Regions from separate parts of the Homo sapiens genome. Here region 1 is linked to region 2. Evidence: fine-mapped QTL for protein levels in blood plasma. A gene starts in region 2. The other region holds a variant in brackets. All regions are shown on one strand. Distances are between the middles of the regions.

Region 1 (2,908 bases), 19 kb after region 2:
TAGTATGCAAATGAACCCCTCCTGCTCCTGCAAAAAGCTGTCAGAGTAGGAAGCGCTGCTGCTTCCAGGGACAGGCTCTGGGAATATGGCCCGGCTGCAGGGGCTTGGGCCTTTAGGTTTAGGGGGGTTGGGAGGTCAGAATAGGAGTAGGGGTGGGGCTCACCTTGAGGGTCTCCAGCACACCTGCAGCCCTTCCATGGGACACTGTGGGGATGGCAGAGGGAAAAATAGGTATGGGGCTCAGAGAAGTGGCTCTGAATCTGAATACCACTGTCCTCACCTGGGTGACCTTGGTCTTTGTCACCGTGCTCTTGCTCTGCTGCAGAGGTCATGGAGTCCTTGCACTGCCGTGGGTGGAGCCACGGCATTCAAGTGGCCTGGCTTGCTGAGGTTCTGCATGAGGGACAACTGCTCTGGAGAGACACCCAGACCCACGACAGGCTTTGCAGGAGTGGAGAGTAAGGCTTTGTGGTGTTAAGCCCCTGTGATACAGTTGTTACTGCAGCATAACCGAGCTTCTCTTGACGGATACAGCAGAGGATGAACCCACTAGAGAATGATTATTACATGAACATTGTTGTCCTCATAGTCTTCATCACCCTCCCCTCCTCCCTTTACCTTGTCAGGGCTGTCGTTGTCTCTGACAACATCCTCATAGAACCCTTCTAGCAACACCATCCCTAACGGGTCCCAGTGGAGCTGTCCGGGGTCCTGTCCTCAGCCTGAGCACTCCAACGTTGCCCAGACTTTCATCGGTTCTGTGCCATTGGGCTGGGCACCCAGGAATCTAAAATGAAAAACATCCAGATGTACCTTTGGAGAGCTTGCATGCTGCTGCAGAGGCAGACATAGGAATAACTCCAGGACTGAGCAGGCCATGGGGCCCCAGAGACACCCAGAAACAAGCAGTGGGTAAGACAAGAGTCACCCCAGTGCAGCAATCTTGGGAGACTTCTCAGAGGAGGAGGCAGGAGGTGGCAGCAGTGACTCACCTTGTTGCTCATAGGCTCCTCTCACAATTCAGGTCTGAGTCCCAACTCCTCTTCTTCCCACTGTGTAGCCTTGGGGCGCACAGTGGAATCTTCCTTCCTAAAGCCTTAGTTTTC[G/A]CATCTGTGAAATAGGACAGTAAAAGTACATCTTCATGGGATATTGCAATGACTGAGTGGATTAGTATGTGTGAGGTGCTTTACTCAGTGCCTGGCATGCAGTAACGTGCAGTAAACAGTTGTTCTTATGACCTTGTTTGGCCTTTGCAACAACCCTGTGAGAGAATAGAAATAACTAGCGTTATCACTGTTGCACAGATGAGAAAACTGAGGCTCAGAAAGGGCAAGTGACTGGCCTAAAACCACACAGTTAAGAGCTGGCTGAGCGTGGACTGGAAGCCGGGCCTGTCTGGCTCTGAGCCTACGTTCACTGTGCTGCTTGGGGTTAGCATTTGTGCCCTCAGACCTTGGATCTCACCTGCTTATTCTAGCCTGGCCGTATCTCCCACTCTTTCCATGTCTCGAACCCCCAGCCTGACCCTTTGAGACCCCACTATTTTTTTATTGTGATAAAATATACATACCATAAAATTTACCATTTTAACCATTTTAAGGGTGCATTTCAGTGGCATGAAGAACATTCATGCGACCATTGGTATGCAGCAATGCTCTTTGTCACCGTGCAAGAACATTGTTATGCGACCATCACCACCGTCCATCTCCAGAACTGTTACCATTTCATACTGAAACTCTATACCCATTAAACCATAAGCCCCAACCACCCTGACAGCCACCATCTCATTCTGTGCCTCTGTGAATTTGACTATTCTAGGCACTTTGTTTTTCTTTGACCTTGTGCAGTGGCACGATCTCGGCTCACTGCAACCTCCACCTCCCAAGTTCAAGCGATTCTCCTGCCTCAGTCTCAGTAGCTGGGATTACAGGCGCAAGCCACCACACACAGCTAATTTTTTATATTTTTGGTAGAGACGGTGTTTCACCATGTTGGCCAGCCTGGTCTCGAACTCCCGACCTCAAGTGATCCGCCCGCCTCGGCCTCCCAAAGTGTTGGGATTACAGACGTGAGCCACTGTGCCTGACGGTACTTTGTGTAAGTGAAATTATGCATCCTTTTGTGACTGGCTTTTTTCACTTAGGATAACGCCCTCAAGGCTCATCCGTATTATAGCATAGATCAGAATATCATTCCTTTATAAAGCTGACTAATATTTCATTGTATGGACAGACCGTGTTTTATTTATCCATCCATCCAGTGATGGACAGTTGGGTTATTGCCACATTTGGCCATTGTGAATAATGCTGCAATGAACACAGGTGTACAAAGTCACCACCTTCCTGAGACCTCCATGGGCGCCACTCCCCAAGAGCTTTGCCAGGATCCACAGGTCCCAAACTGCCCATGATCCAGGAACCAGGGCCCACCCAGCCCATCACCCACTGGCCGCCTTGCTTCCCCCTGAGCTCTGTGCCTTTGCTTTCCCTGCCTGGTGTGTCTTTCCCCAGCATCTCCATCATCCAAAGCCACTCGCTCATCAAGACTCATCTTGAATGTCCCCCGCCCACACCCATAGCCTTCTCTACTTTCCTTGTACTGTGTCCTACCTCTAGCCCCCACCCTCTGTCTGTCCCTCACTTAGGTCTCTGATTATTATTATTATTATTATTATTAGTAGTAGTAGTAGTAGTAGTAGTAGTAGTAGTAGTAGTAGTAGAGACGGGGTTTTACCATGTTGGCCAGGCTGGTCTCGAACTCCTGACCTCAGGTGATCTGCCTGCTTCTGCCTCCCAAAGTGCTGGGATTACAGGCATGAACCACCGCACTCGGCCTCTGTCTCTGATTATTTTAAACCTTAGACTAGTGTTACCTGTGACTGCCCCCTCTTCCAGAATAGGGAATTTCC
Region 2 (2,836 bases):
CTCTGTCACCCCATCACCTCCGCTCAGTGTCACCCCAGGCCGGCTCCAGGCATGCCTAGCATCTGAGACGTGCCCAGCTCACTCACAGACAAGGCACTCATACCCCCCAGGGCTCCAGTTCCAGCCCCAGTCACCCATTCATAGCCTCAGCCCCCTTCTCTTATGCCAAGGATTGCCTGTGGACCTCCAACAGAAGTTTCTCTGGCTGCGATCCTGACCTCCTACTCCCCACCCCTCCAACTATCCAGAATCCTAAGGAGGGAGGTGAGCATGGATATCTGATAAAACCAATGATAAAATAGCCTACACCTGTATAGACCTCCCAGGTGCTCAGGGCTGTTTTATATTTAAGTTAACTTAATCCTCACAGCAACCTTGTGAAGCAGGTGCTACCATCTCCTCGTTTTACAGATGAGGAAACTGAGGCACTGCGAGGTTAAGTAACTTGTGCGGGTTCACATAGAGGGAATCAGTAGGGGCTGGGATTTGAACCCTGGCAGTCGTGCATTGGATATATTCACTGTGTGGGCCCCAGCTTCCCCAGGTGCCCATGTTGCAGGGCAAGAAGACTTTCCCTGCACTGTCTCCTGTGAGCCTCCTGGCCACCTTTGGGGGCAGGCGCTCTTATTCCCTCCCTATAATCGGGTAAGGAGGAGAAGGAAGATGGAAGTGCGCTGGGCCCAAGGTCACCTCTGGGGTGGCCTGAAGCCTGGGCTCTGAGGATAGAGGAGCCAGACACACCGTGAGAGTCCACCTCTGCCCTGGGGCAGGCGTGGCAGCAAGGCAAGCACTTCCTGCTGTCCCCCGCCCCCTTGGTCAGCCCCAGACAGACACTCTGATCCCTGCCCCAGACCCAAACCCCCAAACCAGGCCAGCAGACTCACCTGGCTCCCCCTTGGGCCCCGGCAGTCCGTCGTACCCATCCTTCCCTGGTGCCCCGGGCAGGCCGGGCATCCCTGGGATCCCGTAGCAGCCTGTGTTGGCTTGGCCCCTGAGGGGCAGCAGCAGCAGGAGCAGCAGCAGCTTCAGCCCAAGGTGGGGCAGGGAGCTGGGCCCCACGTCCATCCCGGAGAAGGAACTGGGAGGGAGAGAGCTGAGCTGTCCCCGCCAGCCCCTCACCTGCCCCCAACCCTCTCATTCCCCAGGGCCCGTCCTCCTCAGCCCTCGGGAGCTCGCCTTCCTTCCTCCCCCAGGAGCCTCACCATGGATGGATGGTGGGGCCTTTTCTTCAGCCCAGGCCCCGGGGCCCAGCAGGAGTGGGAACCCTCCTTCCCCTCACACACCAAGCTGCCCCTGGCACCACATTTCAGGAAGGTGGCGGAAGGTGGAGGAAACGGCCATCTGCCCATACCTGGGCAGGGGTCCGGGCCTCACCTGCAGGTGGGCGGTTTCTGGCCTGGCACAGAGATGTCCTCAGATCTGCTTCCCCTCTCCCAGGCAAGAGGACACGGTGTCTGAGTGGTCAGAGCAAGGATTGCCCAAAGCAGGGCTGGGCCCCCTCCCCTTCTCGTGCCCTCCCCCAATCCCACATCCCCTTTCCCAGAATTTTCCCTGACTTGACACTTTCTTTTGGGTGCTGAGCCAGACTGACCACAGCAATACCCCATCCACATCCCCCCACCGGCAGTCAGTGTCCGAAATGAGGAACTGTCCCCTGCCCCAGCATCTGGCTGAGGGTGTGTGTGTGTGTGTGTGTGTGTGTGTGTGTATAAACACAAGCCCCCAGGGCACAGACGTCCCCCAGAGTCAGGTTCATCCCATCTAATGACCAATGTTAGCATTTGCTTTGCCTGAGACTCAGTTTTCCCAGAATCCCTAGGAGGAAGTTATTATCCCCCTTTACAGATAAGGAAACAGGCTCAGGAGGATGTACACCGTTGCCCAAAGTCACACACTGAGTGGTCTCTTGGGGCCCAAAGCCTTGCTCTGACCCCTCTGCTCAGCTGCCCCCAGAAACAAGCCTCACATGCACTTGTCAAGTTGCAAGCCTTGTTCTAGAAACTTCCATGTGCCCCATCCCAGTGGCCACACTTGGAGGTGGACCCCCAGGATGGACCCGCTTTGGCGGCAGGCAGCTGTTGTGGTGCACGGGCTGCCCTGGCTACAGAGCCAGGGCCCTGGCTTCTCCTTCCAGCCCTGTCACTGCATGGACCAGATGCCTTCAGCAAATCACTGGTCCCTCTGGCCTCCCTTCTGTCTACTGGGGTGGCCTTGGCTTTCAGTATTGGTGCCTCTTCCTTCGTTGGGGCACCTGGTCTTCCCTGACGGTTCCATCTTCCCTGCCAACACCACCCTCCTTGCCTGCATCCTGGGGGTGCCCTGCCTCTGGGCTTGGAGCCCACCATGGCTGGTGAGGGGCTCCCCATCAGGACCAGGCTGGCAGAGCTGAGAGGCCTTCTCCCCTCTCCCTCTTCTCCTCACATGAGATTCTAGGGATGAAGGGGCTGTCAGGCAGTAGCAGGGCTCCAGCCTCGACCCCACACCTGCCACCTGTGTCCATTGGTTCCCCCTCTGTAACATGGAGGCTTCTTACAGCTCCAGGCCAGTGGCTGGGATTCAGTGCACAACACACGTGTGATGCCTTGTCCCGTGCCAGGTATGGGCAGGTGTTCAGAGCTCTTCCCCTGCCTCACTGAGGAACCCTCAGGGTCTCAGTCTCCCCTTCTGTGTCTCCACCACGTGCCATGGGACTGCAGAGAGTGTGGGGTGAGTTAAGGGGCATGAACCCACTTGGCCCTAGGAGTCCCTGGTGGGTGGAAGCCTGGGCCGAGAAGAAATGATGGATACTGCATTATGGGGCTGGGGGCCACCCAGCCTAACGGCTCTGGGCTCCTCT

The links. A credible set is the group of variants that fine-mapping cannot tell apart. PIP is the chance, under the fine-mapping model, that this variant and not a neighbour inherited with it causes the effect. Sun 2018 read protein levels with aptamers (SomaScan).
Region 1: its variant is the best candidate, but not a certain one, in a credible set for the plasma level of the C1QC protein (Sun 2018, PIP 0.87).

Annotation. Positions count from the first base shown.
Region 1 is chr1:22,623,507-22,626,414 of GRCh38, reverse strand. No RefSeq gene overlaps it. Among named protein-coding and RNA genes, the nearest start is that of MIR6127, 8.4 kb to the left of the region's middle. The variant G/A (reference allele first, on the strand shown) is at 1,107.
Region 2 is chr1:22,642,253-22,645,088 of GRCh38, reverse strand. C1QC (complement C1q C chain) reads right to left here and starts at 1,456. Exons shown (of 3, transcript NM_172369.5): 1 at 1,375-1,456; 2 at 885-1,078. The coding sequence starts at 1,065.